Linked DNA regions of Homo sapiens. The protein of the gene in region 6 purifies or fractionates together with the protein of the main gene of each other region. This does not show direct contact. Each region holds a gene or a part of one and is shown on either strand. Other genes may lie near its edges. The genes, in order: PPP2R5E, CERCAM, FAT1, PPP2R5D, AMD1, DNASE2B and PON2.

Region 1 (3,500 bases), on a different chromosome or scaffold from region 6:
GGGAGTATTTTAAACTTAAGTAAGTCTCTTTCCTTTGGGAATGAAGGCGATAGGCCCGGCGCCGTGGCTCACACCTCTGTAATCCCAGCACTTTGGGAGGCCAAGGTGGGCGGATCATGAGGTCAGAAGACCCAGACCATCTTGGCCAACATGGTAAAACCCCGTCTCTACTAAAAATACAAAAATTAGCTGGGCATGGTGGCGTGCGCTTGTAGTCACAGCTACTCGGGAGGCTGAGGCAGAAGAATTGCTTGAACCCGGGAGGTGGAGGCTGCAGTGAGCCAAGACTGTCCCACTGCACTCCAGCCTGGGCGGCAGAGCAAGACTCCGTCTCAAAAAACAAAAACCAAAAAAACAAAATGAAGGTTATATCAATATCAAAAAAACGAGTTTGCAAACTTTTTATTTTGCTTCTAAAAGTAGTTGTACAAAATCCTCCTACCTGTGCATGGAAGAGTGATAAGCTCCTGACAGTGTGTAAAGGGATCAATACTTTCACCAGAAACTGTTTGTGTTCTGCCTTAAGAGGTAAAGCAAAGCCATTGATAATACTAGGGAGAAAAAAGAGACACAAATTAGCAATGTTACCACAAGTTGAACTGAGACAAACTGTTCTTGTGATATTAATTAAACTTAATCAGTTTGTTTGTACAAAACAACATAATACCCACCCCAGTGGCATTCAGAATTTCCTTTTTTTTTTTTTTTTTTTTTTTTTTGAGACAGAGTCATCTTGCTCTATTGCCCAGGCTGGAGTGCAGTGGCCCAATCTCAGCTCACTGCAACCTTCGCCTCCGGGATTCAAGCTATTCCTATGCCTCAGGCCTCCCAAGTAGCTGGGATTACAGGCACCCACCACCATGCCTGGCTAATTTTTTTGTATTTTTAGTAGAGAAGGAGTTTCACCATATTGTCCAGACTGGTCTAGAACTCTTAACTGCAAATGATCTGCCCACCTTGGCCTCCCAAAGTGCTGGGATAATAGGCGTGAGCCACCACACCCAGCCAGGATTTCTTAATGACTTCAAGGAATACAAAAAGTTGGAAGGAAATTTAAGAGAAGAAAATTTGCTTCTGGTCACCCAACAAAGGCTCCTGTGCTCCTAAAATTAGTCAGATGGTTTCCAAAAGCTCTTTATCAAAACCCTTTATTTTCCCTCCCTTTTCCTTCTCCAAATAATGGCCCGCCTTGCTTGCTTCCGCCTTAAATATGACCTTTTCCATTTCCAGACATCATTCCTTCTCATTCCTGAAACCTCTGCCCAGCCTAGGGAAATCACTGAGAGAAAGCCATGTGACTCCACCTTCTTTTTCTCTTCATATTAGGAGAAAAGATTAAGTAATCATATTGTCCAGCTACATTATCCTCCCTTGTGTGTAGAAACTTACACCACAGCTCTTTCCAATTCATTCCACTACTCCAGGCTGCAGCTGTTCAAGGACTATACCTGGATACACAACTCCTTTGAAAATGGCAATCTTTCCAATTTATTATAAACTTGCTTTCAACAGATAAGGCAAAGGACCAGATAGCCTAAAAACTAATGAGAATAAGATGTTTTGGAGTAACTAGCCTGACCACAATTAGATGTACCATCTTTCTAGTAATGAATGAACTGTCAGCTCTTTCAGTCATTCCAGTGGAAATGGCAATGCATACTTGTGGAACAAGGGGAACAGGAAATTGTGTCTTGTAGAGTCAGCTGGAAAATATGCTAATAGGCACAAATGAGAGAGACCCAATGTACATACAGCAAGAGAACTAGGTGAGCATCTCTTGGTGCCACCTGAACCTAATTTTTAAAATAATATTCATCTGAGATTAGCAATTAGAAAAACCGTGCTCACCTTCCTAATATTTCCAGCAGTTCAGCTACACCATTGAAGTGTTCTGTTTCATAAACAAACCTGAGAGAAGAGGAGAAAAGGGAGGAGAAAGGAGGAGAGGAGGAGGAGAAGGAAGGGATAAAAAGAGGAGGAGGAGGAGGAGAAGGGGGAGGAGGAGGAGAAGAGGAGGAGGAGGAGGAGAGCGGGGAAGAGAGGAGGAGAGGGAGGACAAGGGGGAAGAGAGAAGGAGGAGGAGGAGGGGGGAAGAGAGGAGGAGGAGAGGAGGGGGGAAGAGAGGAGGAGGAGAGGAGGGAAGAGAGGAGGAGGAGAGGAGGGAAGAGAGGAGGAGAGGAGGGAAGAGAGGAGGAGAGGAGGGAAGAGAGGAGGAGAGAGGGGAAGAGAGGAGATGGGGGAGAGATGGGGGAAGAGAGGAGAGGGAGGAGAAGATGGGGAGAGAGGGGGAGGAGAGGAGGGAAGAGCGGAGGAGAGAGGGGAGAAGAGGGGGGAGGAGAGGGTGGAAGGGAGGAGGAGCAGAGGGAAAAGGGAGGAGGAGGGGGGAAGAGAGGAGGAGACGGGGGAGAGATGGGGGGAAGAGAGGAGGAGAGGGAGGAGGAGAGGAGGAGGAGGGGGAGGGGGAGAAAAGGAGGGAAGAGAGGAGTCGGGGAGGAGAGGAGAAGGGGGGAAGAGAGGAGGGGAGCGGGAAGATGGGGGAGGGAGAGGTGGGGGAAGAGAGGAGGACAGGGAGGAGAAGAGGAGGAGAAGGGGGAGGGGGAGAAAAGGAGGGAAGAGACGGGGGAGGAGAGGAGAAGGGGGGAAGAGAGGGGAGGGGGAAGATGGGGGAGGGAGAGGTGGGGGAAGAGAGGAGGAGAGGGAGGAAAAGAGGAGAAGGGGGAGGGGGCAGGAGAGGAGGAGAGCGGGGAGGAGAGGAGGAGAGGGAGGGAGAAAGGAGGAGGACAGGGGATAGAGGAGGAGGAGGAGAGAGGAGAGGAAAAGAGGAGAGGAGGAGGAGATGGGGGAGGAGGAGAAGGGGGAGGAGAAAAGCAGGGGAGAGGGAAGAGGAGGGGGAAAGTAGGGGGAGAGGAGGGATAGAGAAGAAGCAGTGGGGGGAGGAGGGAGAGGAAGAGGAAAAGAGGAGGAAGAGGAGGGTGGGAGGAGAAGATGGGGGAGGAGAGGAGAAGATGGGGGAGGAGAGGAGAAGATGGGGGAGGAGAGGAGGGGGAGGGGGTAGAGGAAGAGGCAGGAGAGTCAGTAGAATGAAGGAAGGCAGGCAGAAAGGGAGAAAGAGAAGTCAGTACACCGTTTTCAGATATTTGAGATTTACTTAATACTCATAAAAACACCAACTTTGCTTCTCCTTCTTCCCCCATCACACTCCACTTACCTTAGAAAAATATTGTTAATCTGTTTTCGGATAAATGCTCTAAGACCAAGAAACTTGCCATAAATTCTGTGTAAGACTGTTTTTAAGTAGTCCCGTTCCCGAGGGTCTTCGCTGTCAAATAGCTCCAGAAGCTGTTGTAAATGAAAGACATTATAGCTGTCAAAGGCGGTTTCAGAAAAGGATTTAGGAATTCTATTATTTAAAATCCCCTTCTTCCTTCCTCAAAAAATGTGTTGAATATCTATTATGTGCCAAGCACAGTGCTAGTCTTTGGGCATATCATGATAAACAA
Region 2 (3,500 bases), on a different chromosome or scaffold from region 6:
TTTAGTAGAGATGGGGTTTCACCATGTTGGCCAGGCTGGTCTCGAACTCCTGACCTCAGGTGATCCACCCACCTCAGCCTCCCAAAGTGCTGGGATTACAGGCATGAGCCACCACGCCCAGCCACCTCGGGAGTTCTGAGAGGATAACTATTAGGACATGTCCTAATATGATAAGACAGGGGTGACCCTTGAGGAAAGGGTGGGATGGTAGGGGGCTGCCTGAGGGGGAGGCACTCTAGGAAGAATGTGGGAACATGATAGATACTTCTTGGGCAGAGGCCCAAGCAAAGGATGGATAGCCTATGGTCAAGAGACCTCGGGGGATGTGGTGTCTCACACCTGTAATCCCAGTGCTTTGGGAGGCCAAGGTGGGAGGATTGCTTGAGGCCAGGAGTTCAAGACCAGCCTTGGCAACAGAGAAAAACCCCATCTCTCAAAAAAAAAATTTTTTTTGAGACAGAGTCTCACTGTTGTCGGCCCAGGCTGGAGTGCAATGGCACAATCTCGGCTCACTGCAACCTCTGCCTCCTGGGTTCCAGCAGTTCTCCTGACTCAGCCTCCCAAGTAGCTGAGATTACAGGCACCCACTACCACACCTGGCTAATTTTTGTACTTTTAGTAGAGAGGGGGTTTCACCATGTTGGTTGGCCAGGCTGGTCTCGAACTCCTGACCTCAGGTGATCCATCCATAACCTCCCAGAGTGCTGGGATTACAGGCATGAGCCACCGTGCCCAGTCAAAAATTTTTTTTCATTAGGTGGACATGGTGGTGCATGCCTGTAGTCCGTTATTCAGGAGGCTGAGGCAGGACGGTCACTTGAGGCCAGGAGTTCAAGACCAGCCTAGGCAACAGAGTGAGACCCTATCTCTATGAAAAAAAAACAAAACAAAACATTTTTTTTAATCCGGGTGTGGTGATGCAAGCCTGTAATCACAGCTACTTGGGAGGTGAGGGAGGAGAATCACTTAAAACCTGGGAGGCGGATGTTGCAGTGAGCCAAGATTGCGCCACTGCACTCCAGGCCTGGGCGACAGAGCGAGACTCTGCCTCAAAAAAAAAAAAAAATTCTTTTTAATTAGCTGGATGTGATAGTGCACACCTATAGTCCCAGTTACTCAGAAGGCTGAGGTGGGAGGATTACTTGAGCCCAGGAGTTTAAGGCAGCAGTGAGCCATGTTTGTGGCACCGCACTCCAGCCTGGGCAACAGACGGAGGGCAACAGACGGAGACGCTGTCTCTAAAAAAAAAATAAAAAGAGCTGAGTACTTGAAGCAAATGGCAGCCGACATATGGGGCCATAGGACCCCTGGTGGCTGGAGAAGCCTAGCCTCTGGGTTCCTCGGGGGAACATGGCTGGCCTTTCCTAATCCCCACGCATCAGTAGCTCAAGTCCAGGATGGAGAGTAATAATAAGGGAGACACCTAAGCCTTTGGAAACTATGTGCCCGGCCCTGGCTAACTTCACTAAACTCACAAAACCCTAAGAGAAGGGCACAGTTATCTGCTGTTTATACAAACGGGCTGAGAGATGGGGGTAGCTGGCTGGAGGTCACACATTCAGTAACTGGTAGAGCTGGAACCCAGGCCCTGGAGCCTCAGCCACTGTGCTCTCCTCCTCTGGTGAGCAGCAGGAGGGCATCTTCTCCCACGTGTGTCTGCTCCGGAACTCCCTGAGAGGATATTACTCAGACCCTATTTGGATACTACATGGGACAGGAAACTCATTCAACCTGTCTGCTTTTCCCAGTCCTAGCGGGCTAGGAGATGGACCACACTGCTTCCCCAAGCGCACAGGGCCCCCCCCACCAGGCAGGCTCACCAGCCATCCACAGCGTCCACCACCCTCCCAGAGATCTCCATCTCCCAGAGCGAGGCGAGCATGCGTTCCCGACGGTCAGGCCTGCGAGCCAGGCTGATGACAAAGACCTGGAGGAGGCAGGGGGGTGGGCGGTAAGTGCAAGGGAGCGGAAGAGGAGGGCCCATCCACCTCCTAACAGCGAGCCCACAGGCTGGGGGACTTACCTCGTCAAACCCTATCTTGCTGGGCCTCTTAGAGGGCCGAGTCACATGAGCTGAGGCCTGCATGCGGGGGCCGTCCACTGCAAAGGGAAGCACACCCCAAGCACGAGTCCCTACTGACTCCTGTTAGCAGTCACCCTGAAGTCCTAGCCCCCAGCCTCATTCCTGCCCCCTTTGGCAGAACACCCCACAGGACGGGACCTCAGAGATCACAGGATCCACCTGCCCCCATTGTAGGGATGCTAGACTAAGGCCCAACAGGGAAAGGGACTTTCTCAGAGTCATGGAACGAGTTAGGGACAAAGCTGGAACCCCAAGGCCAATGCCCGCTCCGTCCAGGGCCTAGGGAAAGGGGCACCGTGGGGAGGCAGGGAGCCCCGGCAGCAGGTGGGTGGAACAGTTCCCCAGCCCTCACCTAGTGCTTCTAAGATCAGGTGGATGAAGTTGACCCTCTCGTCTTCCAGCCCCTGGTGGGATTTCACCGGCACATTCATGTACCCATAACGGTGCTCATTGCACACGTGGACGGAGACCCCTGCAGAGACAGGCTGAGTGAGAGCTGCAGTGGAGGGTGGGGCTCTCAGAACCCAGCTGAAAGGTCCTAGGCCCAGCACTGCCAGTGACCCAACATGTCAGTCTTCTCTGGGACTCAGTTTCCCCACCTGTGGGACCAGAGGGAGAAAGGGCTTGGCTCACACAATATCTAAGGGGTCTTTCTACTGAAATGGTTCATTCATTCAATATACCTGTCCAGGGCACCCGCTGGGAGCCAGGGTTACGGCAGTGAGCAAGACTGAGTCCCTGCCCTCAGGGCATCAAGGTGAGGCAGGAGCAGACAAACTCCTACCCATCACAGCCACAGGGTGCCAGTGAGCCCCACTGCTCTGTCTCCTAAATCCCCCCACCTCTCCTGATCCCCACCACCCCACCTGGATCCAAGGGCCATCGCCTTTTCCCCACACCCCTCCACTTCACCTCACACCCTCTGGGGCTCCTCTCCACGATGTCTTTCACCTGGCAGCCAGAGTGGCCTTCCCCCGGCTTCAATATTTGTTACCTTTTTTTTTTTTTTGAGATGGAGTCCTGCTCTGTCACCGAGGCTGGAGTGCAATGGTGCGATCTTGGCTCATTACAACCTCTGTCTCCCAGGTTTGAGCAATTCTCCTGCCTCAGCCTCCTGAGTAGCTGGGAATACAGGTGTGCACCACCACATCCAGCTAATTTTTGTATTTTTAGTAGAGACGGAGTTTCGCCATGTTGGCCAGGATGGTCTCGAACTCCTGGCCTGAAGTGATCCACCCACCCTAGGCCATCCAAAGTGCTGGGATTACAGGCGTGAGCCACTGCACCCGGCCAATATTTGTTACCTTTATTATAATTATCCTCAGGGGCAGGCACACAGTGCCAATTAAAAAGCTAACCTAGGCGGGGCACAGTAGCTCACGCCTGTAATCCCAGCACTTTGGGAAGCCCAGGCAGG
Region 3 (3,500 bases), on a different chromosome or scaffold from region 6:
CCCATCCAACATCTCGCCATCTCTCAATGTCTAAAAAACATGGTCAACTGTATGTCTCATTACTTTAGCAAACTGGAATTGGAACTCAACACGGAACTCCTCTAAAACCAGCCCCCGGCTCAGACTCCTCTTTGCCACGGCCTTGGTCGCTCCCCCTACTCATGTAGAAAGTCGGGCTCGATGGCATGCTGGCTGGCTGTCACACCAGATGGTCTTCCTCGGTGGTGGCTTTGGTCCTTTCACTCCTTCCCCACCTCTGCCTTTCCAGGGCCCCCTTGCATCCACTCCTCCCTGTCTAAATAATGGGCACGATGCTTCCAAACTAAGCTTAAGAACTCGTCTCATGTCATCTCTACCTTACCGATATAAAAGGCTCCAAAGTCCCTATTTTCTCTAGGATCGAGTTCAAATCCCTTGGAACGACCGCCACTGCCCACTGTAATCCAGTTCACCCTTTTCCAAGACTCTCAGTGCAGACTCCCCACTTCTGGCAAACTCAGTGGCTACTCCCACAATCCCTCCTCACACTCCATGGCCCCTCCCCACCCACTCCTGACGACCCACTTACTGCCCCCCGAAGCTGAGCCAGCCCTTTCTCTGGGCAGCCCTTCTCACCCTCTGGCCCCAGGGACCACCCCTGCTCGAGCCACATGCCCTCATCTAACCTTGGAGGGAGCAGCCCTTCCTACGTCTACTTTTAGTTCCCACTGAATGGTGAGCCGCGCAGATGCAGGAAGCACGCTGTCCACCTCTGAGCTTCTCCAGCGTGCAGAAGAGCAGATGCCCCCAAAACAGTGTCTCACGGCACGTCGGCACTTTGTTTCCCGTCAGATCCTTCCCCCAAAACAGCTGTATCCCCATATTAAGAGAATCCCCTCATGAAAAGGTTACAGAGCATTTTCAGTGTTGGATGCAACTGGAGTCCTGTCCGTAATTTAGTTTTCTAGAATGAGGCTTTTGATTTATTGAGCATTCCCGCAAATAGTTCTGAAGCTTTTCCAAGTCTTACCCCATTTAACACCTCTGCTTAATCAGTAAGTGATCATAAAACACATGTGAATTACACCACAGCGCCAAATGATGGTCCCATTGAAAGAATTAAGAAATTGAAATTCATAACACACAAATGTAAGGGAAGAGCTGCTTACCTTTTCACAAACTGGACTGTTGTCATTTGCATCCAGAACTTTCACTTCAACTATCGCTTTTGATGAGAAGGTGCCATCAGTTGCCGTGATAGTAAGAAGGTAATTGTCCCTTTTTTCCCTGTCTAGAGGTTTCTTCACATATACCTTCCATTCATTCTGTATAGTTTCAACGGCAAACTGTCCTAAAGGATCCCCTCCTATTAAATCAATGGAGGAAGATAATAATCAAATTTGTTGAAAGGATAAAAATAAGTAACAGAAAAAATAAACTGTACAAAAGATGTATAATGTTATAGTTTAAAAGAATTGAGTATTAAAAGAATTAATTTGGCATATATTAGCCTTCCAATTTACAAAAACAAGGGCAGCATTAAAATGCATAAACATAGCATTAAGACTACTAATCATTTAGCCTGCATTAAAACTATAGATGTTTTTAATTATATTTATTATACACTAAGTATAAGGTTCAAAAGAATGAGTCACAAAAATCAAAAACAGTCTAATGAAACAACTGGTAGCTTTGCTCAGGTAACAAGCTTGAAATGAGGCTCAACAGATGTTATTTCTACGTATTATTTTAGATATTTTTAACTAAAATCATCCCTTAAATCCCCAATTTCCATACAATACAGATCTTATACTTTATGCTTCTAAAAATCATTTTAAATTAATTAAACCGTTTGGTATGAATTTTTTTTACCTGTTATGAAATATGTAACTTGTCTGTTGATCTCTTCAGAATCAGCATCCGTGGTACTTAAGATGGCAATCACCCCACCTTGGGGGTCATCCTCACTCACAGTCCCTTTATAGATCTCGGCCGTGAATCGTGGTGGACTATCGTTGACATCGGTGACGGTAACATCCACAATGGCTGTGGAGGATAGCTGGATCTTTTCACCATGATCTGATGCAACCACTTTAATCTGGTAATTGTCTCTCTTTTCATGGTCAAGTTCCTTTAAAGTTGTAATCCAGCCTGTTTCCATGTTAATGGCAAAGGATTCAATGACTTCCACACTTTGTGACTGATCCAGGCTATACATAACTTGGCCGTTGGTTCCTGAGTCAGCATCAGATGCCCTGATCTGAATTACTCTACTTCCCCCTGGCAGGTTTTCAACAATGAATGCCTCATATGGACTAGATTCAAAGACCGGGCTGTTGTCATTTGCATCTTTCACTTGGATACTAACATCTACAGAAGCCACCATCTCATGGTCATCTTGAGTGCACCTGGCCAGTATGGAAAACTGATACCACTTAGTTGTCTCATGATCAAGACTCTTCTCCAACTTCAGTCTCCCGCTCTGTCTGTCAATCACAAAGGACTCATCCCTATTGCTTTCTGGAGTATTCCCTTTGACCAGGCTGTAAAGAACAGTCCCACTATGTTCTGCTCGGATGAGATCTATCTCTGTTCCAATAGGCACGTCCTCTGACACTGTAAAGGTATAGAAAGGTTCTGAAAATTTTGGAAGCTGCATTTCCGGTGGAAGGATTTTAACATAGACAAGAACAACAGATTCTTTTGATGGAGACCCATTATCCACAGCTCTAACAAAGAAAGTGAAGAATTCATTTTCCAAGCCAATGAGGCTCTCCTTTGTAGTGATTACGCCGGACAGTTTGTTAATTTCCAAATTCTCTTTTACACTTTCAGAGTCTGCTTCAATGGCATAGGTGATGTCGGCATTGGAGCCCTCATCGGCATCACTTGCAAGAACTTTAACGACTGAAGTCCCTTTAGCAGCACTGGACCCGATATTCACTTCGTATTTGGTTGCTCGAAATTGTGGTGCATTGTCATTGTCATCTGTAAGGATGACATTCACGGTGCAGAAAGCAACTTTTCCTCCAGCATCCTTAGCCATTAAACGGACTGAGATCACTTTCTCCGCCGGGGTTTCTCGATCAAGTTTTTCCAAAGTAAATATCTGTCCTCTCTCATTTATGTAAAATCTGTCTTTGGCAAAGTCATTTACAATATGGTAAGTAACGTGACCATAAATACCAGAATCCCCATCCGTAGTTTTCACCTCCATCACCAGGGTATGTAGGGGAGCGTTTTCAGCTAGTTCCACTTCATATTCGTTCTGAAGGAAAGCAGGACTGTGCAAATTGCCTCCAATTACAGTTACATGAACCTGGGTGGAACTTCTAAAAACTCCATCAGACACTGACAGGTTAAGACTGTAAAATGGCTTCAGGGCGTGCCGGTGCAGGTTTGAGAGGGTGATAATCCCTGTTGCACTGTCAATGACAAAATGTTTATGATCATTGCCAGACAGAATGGAATACTGCAACTTGTCTATGTCTGAACTGTCTGCATCATAGGCTTTTACACAG
Region 4 (3,500 bases), on a different chromosome or scaffold from region 6:
ATTATGTTTATAAAAACTATGGGCCAGGTGCAGTGAGTGGCTCATGCCTGTAATCCCAGCACTTTGGCCAAGGTGGGTGTATCACTTGAGGTCAGGAGTTCCAGACCAGCTGGCCAGCAAGGTGAAACCCCATCTCTTACTAAAAATACAAAATTAGCCGGGTGTGGTGGCGGGTGCCTGTAATCCCAGCTACTCGGGAGGCTGAGGCAGGAGAATCACTTGAACCCAGGAGGTTGCAGTGAGCCAAGATTGCGCCATTGCACTCCAGCCTGGATGACAGAGTGAGACTCTGCCTCAAAAAAAAAAAAAAGAAAAGAAAACTATGTAATACATAGTTTAGTTGTAAAAAATATTTTCACGTTCATAGTAATTTGCCCAAAATGGTGGTATTTTTGGAGGAAGGGAAATGTCTGCAGAAAGGCATAAGAATGATGAGGACTTATTTTCCATGGTAGAAAGTCAATTGATAATATCTAAATCTCAAAAAAAAAAAAAAAAAAGTAGGAAAAGAATCCAATGTGAAAATCTAAAGGAATCTAATCTAAAGTAGGAAAAGAATCTAATGTGAAAATCTAAAGGAATCTAATGAGGAAAGAGCTAAGAGTTGCATTCCAACCCCAATAGTAGTAATATCTGAACAATGTATGTGTTATCATACTGATAAAATTTTGAAATAAAACAAAAGGCCTAAAACTACATAATGACAGAAAATTGCTTCCTATGCTAAGTTAAATAATGATAGTACAAGGCCAAGTGCGGTGGCTCACGCCTGTAATCCCAGCACTTTGGGAGGCCAAGGCAGGTGGATTGCCTGACCTCAGGAGTTTGAGACCAGCCTGGACAACACAGTGAAACCCTGTCTCTACTAAAATACAAAAAATTAGCCAGGCCTGGTGGTGGGTGCCTGTAGTCCCAGCTACTTGGGAGGCTGAGGCAAGAGAATTGCTCAAACCCAGGAGGCGGACGTTGCAGTGAGCTGAGCTCATGCCACTGCACTCCAGCTCCAGCCTGGGCGACAGAGCGAGACTCCATCTTCAAAAAGTAAATACACAGGCCGGGCGCGGTGGCTCACGCCTGTAATCCCAACACTTTGGGAGGCCGAGGCGGGCAGATCACGAGGTCAGGAGATCGAGACCATCCACCCCGTCTCTACTAAAAATACAAAAAATTAGTCGGGCGTGGTGGTGGGTGCCTGTAGTCCCAGCTACTCGGGAGGCTGAGGCAGGAGAATGGCGTGAACCCGGGAGGCGGAGCTTGCAGTGAGCCGAGATCACGCCACTGCACTCCAGCCTGGGAGACAGCGAGACGCCGTCTCAAAAAATAAATAAATACATACATACATACATAAAAAAAAAATACAGTACAAAACTAGATACACAAAATGAGCTCGCTCACATTAAAACACATGCACAGAACCAAAAACGAGGTTCAGAAAAGGTAAGAACAAGCCCAAGTCCACCACTGTGTTAATGACTATCTCCTGTAGTAGAATTAGATTACTTCTGCATTTCTAAATTTTCTACAAGCTGACACTGCTTTTTTTCTGCCTTACTTCCATTGTGTAGTATGATACTGCTTTTATAATGGGAGAAATGCAGCTAATTTTTAAAATTATCTCTTTTTATTTTTATTTTATTTATTTATTTTTGAGATGGAGTCTCGCTCTGTCATCCAGGCTGGAGTGCAGTGGCAGAATGTTGGCTCACTGCAACCTGCACCTCCCAGGTTCAAGTGATTCTCCTGCCTCAGCCTCCCGAGTAGCTGGGATTACAGGCACCCGCCACCATGCCAGCTACTTTTTGTATTTTTTGTAGAGATGGGGTTTCTCCACGTTGGCCAGGCTGGTCTTGAACTCCTGACCTAAATTAATCCACCTGCCTCGGCCTCCCAAAGTGTTGGGATTACAGGTGTGAGCCACCGTGCCCAGCCTAAAAGCTATCCCTTTTTAAAGGCATAGCTCCCAGACACAGGTGTTACAGCCCCATGAAGTCCATTTTCAGAAGTCTAAATACAGGTATTTGCAGGGCTGTCTGCCCACAGGTACTCCTGGACTGTCCAGGCAGCCCCCTGTTGGGAGAGGAAAGAAGCTAAACCACAGGACAGCCCTTGCCCCCAAACAGAGTCTAGAATAGGACTAGGCAGAGGCCATGTCCAGCTGGGTACCCTCACCACAGGGAAAGGGAAAGGTGACCTCTTGGCCTCATACCTGCCATCTCCCGCTCCTCTCCAGCTCCCATCCCAAACTCTTACTCCTTACCATAATAATAGAAGAACTTGAAATCCTCTGGGGTGGGGGAGGGAAGGAAGACAGAAATGTTATTAATTGCATCCTCTGAATTTTTTATAAAAACAATGATGTGGACTTGTCACCTATCTAGGGATGAGAGAACAGGAGAGGAGCACCGGGTCCAGCCTGTGGGTCCCGTGTATTAGACATGGCAAGGCATCTGGAGGTCTGAGGTCTCCCTTTCTACATATGGCAGATGAGTTGCACCTTGGGGTGGGGGAAGTGGTAGTAAGAGAAAAGCAGGTTGGGGGCCAGCACTTGGTGTGTATCCAGACACTCCTCTGCCTCAGGCCTCCATTTCCCTGCCTTAAGAACAACTAGGCCAGGCACGGTGGCTCACACCTGTAATCCCAACTCTTTGAGAGGCAGAGGCGGGCGGATCACGAGGTCAGGAGTTTGAGAGCAGCCTGGCCAACATGGTGAAACCCTGCCTCTACTAAAGATACAAAAAATTAGCTGGGCGTGGTGGCACGTGCCTGTAATCTCAGCTACTCGGGAGGCTGGGGCAGGAGAATCTCTTGAACTCGGGAGGCAGAGGTTGCAGTGAGCTGAGATCATGCCATTGCACCCCAGCCTGGGTGATAGGGCGAGACTCCGAATCAAAAAAAAAAAAAAAGAACAACCAAACCCTTATCTGTGGAGCTTGGTGCTCAATAACACCTTGGGCCAGACTGCCTGCCTGGGTTCAATCCTGGCTCGCCACTTATTAGCTGAGTAATATCCAGAAAGTCTGCACCTCAGTTTTCTCATCTACAAAATGGGATGACAACCATACCTACCTTATAGCACTATCGTAAGGATAGAGATGAACAGTTCCTCGCACTAAAGAAGCATTTTTTTTTTTTTTGAGACAGAGTCTGGCTCTGTCACGCACTAAAGAAGCATTTTTTTTTTTTTGAGACAGAGTCTGGCTCTGTCACCCGGCTGGAGTGCAGTGGCGCAATCTCAGCTCACTGCAACCTCTGCCTCCCGGGTTCAAGCAATTCTCCTGCCTCAGCCTCCGGAGTAGCTGAGATTACAGGTGCGTGCCACCACGCCCGGCTAATTTTTTGTCGTATTTTTAGTAGAGACGGAATTTCACCATGTTAGCCAGGCTGATCTCGATCTCCTGACCTCATGATCCGCCCGCCTCAGCCTCCCAAAGTGCTGGGATTACAGGTGTGAGCCACCGTGCCCAGCCCTAAAGAAGCATTTTATAAGAGGTACCTTCTAC
Region 5 (2,215 bases), on a different chromosome or scaffold from region 6:
TATACATTTTCATAAGATTTTTCAGCTTATTACATATTTGACTGTGGAACTAAAATGTTGCCAAATAAAGAAAATGACAAAGCCAAGTGTGATGGCAGAACCCTGCATTCCCAGCTACTTGGGAAGCTGCAGCAAGACTGCTTGAGCCTAGGAGTTCAAGGAAGCAGTATGCTATGATCGCACCTGTTAACAGCCACGGCACTCCAGCCTAGACAACAGAACAAGATCCTAAATTAAAAAAAATAAAGAAAATGATCAAGGTTATAAATTTTTTTCTACTTAATAGAAATAACCATGAATGAAATAAGGAAACTTATTTGAGTTTGATCATCCTCAACCAATGTTTTAAGAGTCTAGTCTATAATAAAGGTTGGGACCTAACACTTTTAAACTTCTGTCTAACTCCAAACTCATAAATACACATTGTTGTATTGATTTTAAACTTCAGACATGTAGTATTTGGTCAAGTAGGCTACTTAAAAAACAGGGCAACAGAAAAGTTTCTGAATGTCACTAGACAATTAAACTTTTATTGAAGCGTAAATTGTGGTACAGAAATACATTTCAACTGATTTAAGTCCAACACCAGTGAAAGGAGAAATTATGGCACCAAAACTTTCCCTCTTCTATCATACGATGATTTAGATTATGATTCAAACTACATTTCTCTTTTCTAGGCTTTGTCCCATAAAAATTTGTGCAGTTTTTCAACATTAGAATTCTTAATTCTATTGGAAACAAAACAAAACAAAACAAAACAAAAACAAAACCAAACCAGACCTCAAGTCAACAAATCTATTGGGATATTGTTTACGAACAAAGTCCACCTTAAGCATTGGTCCTCAAAACAGAGCTCCTCAAAATATTAGGTGCTGTGCTCATTACAGAATCAAACTGATCACACTGATTGAAAACTTCCTCAATGAAATTTTCAATCAACAACATGCTTCAAATAAAAGTCAAACAGTGTTCCAACCACTTGATTTCAAACCAAGTAGATTTTAGGTTTAGAAACACTAAAAAAAGGTGTTTCATTTATAAATACGGAAGGAACAAAAACATCACTGCATCAATCCAGAAATTATCAAAATATTTAGAGGACAAGAAATATAAAATTTAGTCAACTTTGCTGTTTTCTCAGTTCCTTAAAATCCCAGAGAATCTGCAAATATAGCTAAAAGGTACCAACTCTTGAAAGCCTATATTACTAGTCATTTCCCATTGAGTATTTTGGAATTTTATTATTCTATTTATTCATATTCTACTTATTTATAATGTATTCTGCTTTATGATGTTTATCTGAATAATCTGGACAAATTCTCATTCTGGGCAGTCATTCATTTCATCCTATGAATGCCATGGTAAGGGAAACACCGTAGTTAAGAGGAACAGATGAAGTCGGAACACTCACATGCATCACAGTCACAGAACTTTAAGTCACGAGATGGAAAAGACATTGATTCTGCTTTGGATCAAAGTTTATAGAACACTACTTAATGGAAACTAGTGGAAATGGCTGCTAAAGGAAAAGTTAAGGTGAATGATCCAAGCTGACTTGATTTACTGAATCCAGAACAAAATTATGCTAAATCTCTCTGGTAATTAACTAAATAAAAATGATTTTATACTACTACTAAGTTAGTAAAGGGGTGCTACTCATTAGACGCTAATCTCATTTACTGAGGAACACAGAATTGTATGTTTTCCACAGTTCAGCCAGTACACCCTAATCTCAATCTACAACTCTGGGTCTTCCCTGCTAACCAACTATTTTCCAAAAGAGCACATTACAATAAAAGAGAGGCTAAATTCCCATGCCCTTTAAAGAATATTAAGCCCAGGGACCATCTCCCCCATTCCCCATCTGGGGTATAGAATTAGTATATAAACCCACAGTGTTAACAGTGTATTGCTTTATTTGGGGTCTTGGGGGAGACACCAGGGAGAGGGAAGAAATCAAAGGACTATAAATGCAGGGTCCAATAATGTTAAAATAGCAAATATGCAAAATGAGTAACTGGAATCATTTTCTTAAGGACTCAACTCATGGAAGAAAAACTTTAATTGCTGTTTCCAAAAACATCAGTATGAAGTAGAAATTGGTTTCAATAACATTAGTAAAGAATATGTTCTAGAAAGTGGAGGTAACTGGATGTAAAATTCTGGCAGCAATTTAATAGAACAGTCCTAGAGGGTTAGGCTGAGGCCAACACCT
Region 6 (3,500 bases):
ATAAGGAATTTTCATCTGCATTAAAAACCTGCTCAGGAAGAAATTATTTCCCCTCAATGATTTTCTTGATGGCATCTGGGAATTCATCTGCTGCCTCTTGGTCAGCAAAAGCTGCTTCTCCTGTTATCTTAATTTTTTTTTTTTTAGGCCAAACCTCTTTCTAAAATTGTCAAACCATCCTTTGCTGGTATTAAATTCTCCAGCTTTAGATGATCTACCTTCCTTCTGCTTTGTCATATAGTGACTTCACTTTTTCTCCAATCATATTAGAGTCTATAGTATTCCTTTCTTATAGCAATCTTGCACCCATATAAAAGCTGCATTTTAATTTTAAGTATGAGCTATAAAAGTATTTTGTAAAAAGTGCAAGGTTTTCATGCCTACTGGCATAGCTGCAGTGAGGGCTTCACAAATTTCCTTTTCTTTTTTCACAATGGCTCTTATGCTGGATTCACTTAACTTGAAATGGCAGGCAACTGAAGCTGCAGACCTCAATCCGCAGTACATATCAAGCAATTCAACATCTTCTTATAATGTCATGACTTGTCTTTGCTTGTTAGAAGCATTTCCAGCATCAGCAGTGGCACTCAGTATAGGTCCTACGGTTTTATTCAAGGTTTCTGATATTGCCCCAAACATGATGAAAAATATGCAAGAGCTGTGAGAGATCACTTTTGACTACAGTATGCAATTTACTGGAGAGAACTGCTCACGTGGAGGTTGTTAGTGTCATGTGGCATTTTCAGCAGATATTCACAAGACTTGAGCTCACCTCAATGGTGACAAAAGGTGGCTATAAAATTATTACAGTAGTACAGTATTACTACAGTTAATTTAATGCAGTTATGACTTAGTACTGCATATTTATGTTTGTTTATATTTCTTGACTGTGAATGGCACCATGTTTGGTCTATGTTTGTATATGTAAATTTTGATGAATTTTAACTTTTTATAATAGATTTGTGCATAGTTTAGGGCAGCAAATGAAAAAATAGACTAGTATCTACATATATTGTATGCATTCATAATGTATCTAACTTTTTCTTAATTTTTAAAAATATTTCTAGGCTATGTGGTTCATCTGTGAGTTTTTTTTTTCAAATTGTCAAAAATCTCCCCCTAAATTTTCCAACATATGTTTTTAAAGGCCTGCATACATATAGACCCATGCAGTTCAAACCCAAGGGCCAACCGTATTATATAAAATGAAAACGCCTGCAGCTGCTTCTGCTTTCCAGGTTGGGGATGGGGACCAGAAGCATATCTATTAGTGGGAAAATAATGCCTACATTGTTCCTTTCCACATCAACGAGACTGCTAGGGGAGGAAGAAGGAAAGAGCAACATTGTAAAGCCTCTATCATTTGCCTTAGTTGGAGTAGATAGGCCTTCACTTGCCGGAATACAATAATGATCTTTGAAGGTGCAAAGGTAGCCCCACACCCTAGCAGGGAGACACAGTTAAACTGCTCTGCTAAACAAAAAAGGGACAGAAAGAAGCCAGGGATTAAAAAGCATAAGAAACATGGAGAAAGACTGGGGTAAGGCCTTATGGTGATGTAAAACCATTCAATATTTCTTACCTTTAGTAAAACCTGCCACATGCAATGTCTTGAGTGATTGGTTCTGGGGGGAAAATGACAGGAAAGGGACTGATTTCCATGCCTGATTGGCATAGAGCCAAAAGAAGAGAGCAACAGCAGTTGGTGATATCCAGGTATGACTCAGTGTTCTTTGGAAGCTGGAATTATGTGCCAGAAGTGACTGTGAGAATATTACTCCTCCACCCCCTGACCTGGAATTGAACCTCTGACAGAGAGTGAAATGCAAGATTAGACCAACTGGTTTAAATCTCAAATGTGAAGGTGACCAAGGCCAATAGCTGGGTTACATTTGGAATTGTTTCCCTTCTCTTGCCTTTACAAATAAGAATCTTCCGTGTACCTTCATAAACATTTATCAAACTATATTGCCTGCACTTGTGTGACTATATTTTCTGCTAGACAGGGGGCAGAGACTGTACCCCTCTTGTTCAACACTCAATAGTCAAAACAATACTGAACATATGTGTTAAAGGAATAAAGCTATTCAAAGGCACATGCCTACATCTACCTACTCTTAAGTCCATGATCTTTTCCCTTTATCAATAGCCTCTCTTCCAACTAAGGCTACAATCCACTTAACCTCAGCTGGCAGTTACACTCAGTTAGAACAATAAACTTCATTTATCATAAAAAATAAATTCCTCACTGGATCATCCCAGAATTCCTCCATGTTGTACCCCAAAGGCACACAAATGGCCTCCTTACCACATTCAATGCAGGTTCACAGAGTAACTAACTCTTCAGAGTTCTCCAAATGATGATATGAATGCCATTCAGTAGCTATGATCAATTATGGAAAATGAAGGTAAGAAAACAGCTTACTTTTCGGGGCATTCCTAAGCACAGTAGACAAGAATGCTCCAACAGACTATGTTGTGCATTGAAAAAAAAATTTTATCACATCATATAATTAAGCAACTGTGAGAGGCTTCTTCATTGAATTTGTTTTCTAAGAAAAAAGCAAGGGCCTTTTTTAAGGACATAGGTTATCCTTTCCTGCTTTTAATTATGTCACTCAGATTTTTTTAATATTGACATTATTGGCTTCAATTAAAGTTGTATCATCACACAAATTAAATGGAACCACCTAGAACAAATATTAGCAAGTTTCTAAAACATGAAAAATAGATACTATCGAAATAATAGCTTTATTTTGGCTCTAAGATTTGGCTGTTTGAAAATTGACTCATATTTGGCCTTACCAGAGGAAATCCAATATCACACAGTAAATTTCACCACTTTTTTTAAGCAGGAAAATATCAAGTTGGAAAGGTGAAGTGACACTGAAAAATGGATTGCAGAAAAATCCTCTCATAATGGGAGGAAGGGAGAGCAGATAATGAGGGATCCTGATTAAACACAACGCTACTACCCAGCAGTGAAGTGAAGCACAAAGTGTGCAGAGAAAATCAGATCCTGACAGCCAGTTCTGCACTGTGCCTATAATATCAATGGAAAAAACCTCAGATGTAATCCTTGGTTGGTTGTTCCTACTTCATTTCCTGAACAAATAATTCAGTACTCCTTTATTATACACTGGTTGCTTAATCAGAAACTTGGTTCCAAAACAACCAAGAGAAATAGGAACATTGCCCTCACACACAGATCACAATGCACAGGGCTCCTGTCACATGAGTAAAAATCATGCACAGTTAAAAATGGACTTTCTTTCCCCTGTCTTTCATGTCACAGGCTTCATATTGATGGGGAAGCTGCCTATTAGGGGAATAGATGACTTCTCATGTGTATTAATGAAAGCAATGTATTGCAGGCTGGGTAGCTGGTAGAAATGTTGTGGGCGTTTGTAAGTGGAAGATTTACGCCATTATAACCCTAATATATTCCTGCAGAGTAACAACACAGCCTATCTAATATACAATGATGGAGTCCCTAAACC
Region 7 (3,500 bases), on a different chromosome or scaffold from region 6:
TAACTCCATTGCCTAATTCCAATGGAAAAAATGTATCTATCTGTAGCCTTCTTTGGAATATTTTCCAGATCTTCTCCCCGTCATCATTTCTATAGCCACTACTGCAGGAAGGTTTTATCATCGTGTATCCCCTCTTCGGTGTGATTATGTCAGGAGCAGTCAATGCTAGAGAAATTTTTGCTCCTCTAATTTAATAATAATAACTAACATACATTAGGTACACCAAGTACCAGGCTCCTTGTAAATACCCTGCATACAATATCTCATATGATTATCTTTTATTTTAGAGTGAAGACTATTGGAGGCTTTGGAAAAGTTAAGCAATTGCTCAAGGTCACAAACTGGGAAGCTGGGACTCAAAGCCTTTGCTCTGACTTAAAGGCAAACAGAAAATATTCAAGTTAGAATTTAATGAATTTCCTCTCTCAGAAACATCCCCTGATTCCTCTGTAAAGCCACTTCACTTGTAAATTCAATTGTGGTCAATTCCATATGTTGTCTTTTTCCCCTGAAGTTTTGCTTCCAAGCCTCTCACCAACATCTTTACCAATGAATATCCTGCACTTTTCTTTAAAACCTCTTTCAAAACCTTTTCTGTCTTTTTCGTATTTCAACTTATTTTATTTCAAAACAAATTTATTAAATCTTTACTTTTTTTATTCTAGTGATATACATTAATTTCAATATTGCATTCCAGGTGATATTTATGTAAATATGTGAAAACTTAATACTGTGGGCTGATTTGGCACTGTTTGTCACTCTTATTGTGTGCTTGACTCTCTCCCTCCCCTTCATCGGTTCTCTCTCTTTAAACTTTTTATTATGGGAAATAGACACAAATCAAGAGAATGGTGTGGTGAGCCCTTATATACCCAGTACCCACCTTCAACAGTTATCAGCTCATGGCCAGTCTTGTTTCCCTTGCAGTCCTACCACTTATCCTCATCCTGTGTTATTTTAAAGCAAATCTGAGGCATCATATTATCCCTAAATATATTTATACAAACCACAATATCATTACTACACTAAAAATTCACAATAATTCCTCAATATCATCAAATATCTAGTTAGTGTTCAAATAGCCAATCATGTTTAAAAGGTGTAGCTTTAAAAAATTACAGTTTGTTTAATTCAGAGTCCAGGTAAGGTCCCACACATTTCAATTGATTGATGTGCCTCTTATTTCTTTAAGTCTACCCCGTGTCAGTCCATTATTGCCTGTGGGCAGGAGGACTTAGCTCCCTGGGTGCACTCAGAGCTTTTGGTAGCCAACACTCAGGGAAGTTGGGGGGGATCTGGGGAGGGTATCCACTGCATCCACTGCTCAGGGGAATTAGGGGGAGAATTTCCAGGCACAAGGAACAGCATGAGCAAAAAAACACATGAATGGCACAGCGTAGCATGACAAACCCTTTCTTTAGAAAGTCTCCTAGCTTAGCACATTTAATTTCCATCTCTTCTTATTACTTTAGCAATTATCTGTGTCAGAGGTGGCCAAGTGTTCACCAGCATCCATGTTCCCCTTCTTCCTTTTTAGCCTTTTTAGCAATAGGCACGTAGCAACACAGCTATAGATAACATTGCCCACCCTTTCTGGCTGACAGATGTGGCCATATGTCTAAGTTTGGGTCAATAGGATGTGAGAATACAATATATATGCAACTACTGGGTAGAAAAAAAAATCTACATAAATTTTCTTTCAACCCCTTCCTGCTGGGAAATGGCAACAAGCAGAGTTCTAGTCTTAGATGAAGACAGCTGTGTTGCTTCATCAGCATTTGCCCCTGAATGACCATATGGAACACAGTCACCTAACTACCCTAGGCCATTCACTTACCTTAAGACTGATGAGAGAAAAATAAAAATAAACATCTCTTTTCTAAGTGACTATAATTTTATAACAGCAACGCATCCTTTACTATACCCAATAGAGCATCCCATATGTAACATATTATTTCCTACTTTTCTGGTTCACTCATCAAGTATATACATTAGTCACCCTGGGAAAAGACACTATATTGGAAAGTGAATTTGCAAAAGTTGCTTAACCTCCTTGAGCCTCAGGTACTTATCTGCTAGAGAAAGAAAAGACATATCTATATCTCACAGTGGTTTTTTGTTTTGTTTTGTTTTCCTTTTCTCCCATCAGTAGACTGTAAAGTACTTGATTATAAGGGCCACAAACTTTAATGCTTTTTTCCCCTCAATCTCCCAAGCAGCAGTTATTGTAAAGGTCTTGACTGCCAAGTGCATAAAATTGTTAGTTATCTTGAGAAAGACAGTCCACTCAAATTTTGAAGGCCAGACATTTAGAAAATCAGATTTTTTAACTTTTAAGCCTCAAATAAAGTTAACTAGCTCTTGACATTTTAATATGCAGATGTTAATCTGCCAAATCTTGGGTGTATAAAAGCTTAGTTTCTGTCTATAAGATAGATCGGGAAGGAATTTTTGAAAAGGACTAAATAGTGAACTTATTTTCTGACCCACAGAAGGCACACATCCTGTATGATATGTAGTCAATAACTATGATTTATTAAAGCAGACACAATATGATATGATATATATAAAGCACCCAAAAGTTGCACATAGTTCACTTCCAGTGATGGTGACTGAAGCACGGTAGTGTGTGCATATGTATGTGTGTGTTGATGGGAATCAAGGGCAAGGGGGAAGGAAGGTTCACCTCTTAGAGGGATTAGTTGGCCTCAAGTGCATAGCTACTACTGTTTTCAAAACAGAAAATAAGAAACAGCCCTCTCTATCATAAAAAGTCACTTTTGCCTGTATAGAAATGTGTGTCCAGCACATTGTTATTTCTTCTTATCAAAGACCTGTGAATAAGCAACTGTTGTTAAAGATATATAACCAAAAGTTATTATTAACCATTATGCATCACTAACATAGCATTCGACAAACGTTCATATGGTGTGTGCTAACCACAGGGCAAAAGCAAAAAAGAAAAAAAAAAGGACAATTCTAATTAGATCTAAAAATGTATCCCAAATGTGCTTCTAATCACTCATCCTCTCCGCTCTGTTGCCTTTTGAAGTGCCTCAGAGGCATTTAACACTTCACAAGAGGGGCCATAGGTGACATATTTCCTCATTCTTTCCAATTCCAGACAGCAGCTCACACACATCACAACATAAAGGTCACAAACATAGACAGATGCCTGTTCAGAATACAAATGTTGCTGGGCTTGTTTTTCTCTGAGGAGCGCTCCATCCCAGTGAGTTGTAAGAGGAATGCACTTGGCAGTCTGTCATGTAACATGGCTGGTTGTGCCCTATTGTCTACTCTGAGACTTGTATTCACAGAAGGTGGGCTTCCCAGGGCCAAGGGCTGTTTAATAATGTGACAATTATTAACTCAGCAGCAAAAGTAACCTAAGAGATCACTGGCCCAAACTCCCACCCTTGCCCAACATCTTTTACTAATGCCATCTGGCTTTTGCTGAGTGACCAGTTCTGAGAGGGCTCTTCTTGATTGCAGCTGGA

The links.
Region 1: the proteins of DNASE2B (region 6) and PPP2R5E purify together in Homo sapiens (affinity purification with mass spectrometry; 3 studies listed by BioGRID and IntAct, with this or other methods). This does not show direct contact.
Region 2: the proteins of DNASE2B (region 6) and CERCAM purify together in Homo sapiens (affinity purification with mass spectrometry; 2 studies listed by BioGRID and IntAct, with this or other methods). This does not show direct contact.
Region 3: the proteins of DNASE2B (region 6) and FAT1 purify together in Homo sapiens (affinity purification with mass spectrometry, with the first as the bait; one large-scale study listed by BioGRID). This does not show direct contact.
Region 4: the proteins of DNASE2B (region 6) and PPP2R5D purify together in Homo sapiens (affinity purification with mass spectrometry; 3 studies listed by BioGRID and IntAct, with this or other methods). This does not show direct contact.
Region 5: the proteins of DNASE2B (region 6) and AMD1 purify together in Homo sapiens (affinity purification with mass spectrometry; 2 studies listed by BioGRID and IntAct, with this or other methods). This does not show direct contact.
Region 7: the proteins of DNASE2B (region 6) and PON2 purify together in Homo sapiens (affinity purification with mass spectrometry; 2 studies listed by BioGRID and IntAct, with this or other methods). This does not show direct contact.

What each region holds. Positions count from the first base shown.
Region 1 is NC_000014.9:63,393,378-63,396,877, forward strand, and holds part of PPP2R5E (serine/threonine-protein phosphatase 2A 56 kDa regulatory subunit epsilon isoform), read right to left. Parts: intron 3,340-3,500; coding exon 3,209-3,339; intron 1,909-3,208; coding exon 1,849-1,908; intron 552-1,848; coding exon 443-551; intron 1-442. UniProt on the Homo sapiens protein: The B regulatory subunit might modulate substrate selectivity and catalytic activity, and might also direct the localization of the catalytic enzyme to a particular subcellular compartment.
Region 2 is NC_000009.12:128,427,357-128,430,856, reverse strand, and holds part of CERCAM (inactive glycosyltransferase 25 family member 3 isoform a precursor), read right to left. Parts: intron 2,556-3,500; coding exon 2,436-2,555; intron 2,101-2,435; coding exon 2,024-2,100; intron 1,928-2,023; coding exon 1,821-1,927; intron 1-1,820. UniProt on the Homo sapiens protein: Probable cell adhesion protein involved in leukocyte transmigration across the blood-brain barrier. Does not express any beta-galactosyltransferase activity in vitro.
Region 3 is NC_000004.12:186,615,857-186,619,356, forward strand, and holds part of FAT1 (protocadherin Fat 1 isoform 1 precursor), read right to left. Parts: coding exon 1,852-3,500; intron 1,346-1,851; coding exon 1,149-1,345; intron 1-1,148.
Region 4 is NC_000006.12:43,001,570-43,005,069, reverse strand, and holds part of PPP2R5D (serine/threonine-protein phosphatase 2A 56 kDa regulatory subunit delta isoform), read right to left. Parts: intron 1-3,500. UniProt on the Homo sapiens protein: The B regulatory subunit might modulate substrate selectivity and catalytic activity, and might also direct the localization of the catalytic enzyme to a particular subcellular compartment.
Region 5 is NC_000006.12:110,893,999-110,896,213, reverse strand, and holds the end of AMD1 (S-adenosylmethionine decarboxylase proenzyme), read right to left. Parts: 3' UTR 501-2,215; downstream 1-500.
Region 6 is NC_000001.11:84,404,984-84,408,483, forward strand, and holds part of DNASE2B (deoxyribonuclease-2-beta isoform 1 precursor), read left to right. Parts: intron 1-3,286; exon of another isoform or gene 3,287-3,453; coding exon 3,454-3,500. UniProt on the Homo sapiens protein: Hydrolyzes DNA under acidic conditions. Does not require divalent cations for activity. Participates in the degradation of nuclear DNA during lens cell differentiation.
Region 7 is NC_000007.14:95,418,029-95,421,528, forward strand, and holds part of PON2 (serum paraoxonase/arylesterase 2), read right to left. Parts: exon of another isoform or gene 288-3,500; intron 1-287. UniProt on the Homo sapiens protein: Capable of hydrolyzing lactones and a number of aromatic carboxylic acid esters. Has antioxidant activity. Is not associated with high density lipoprotein.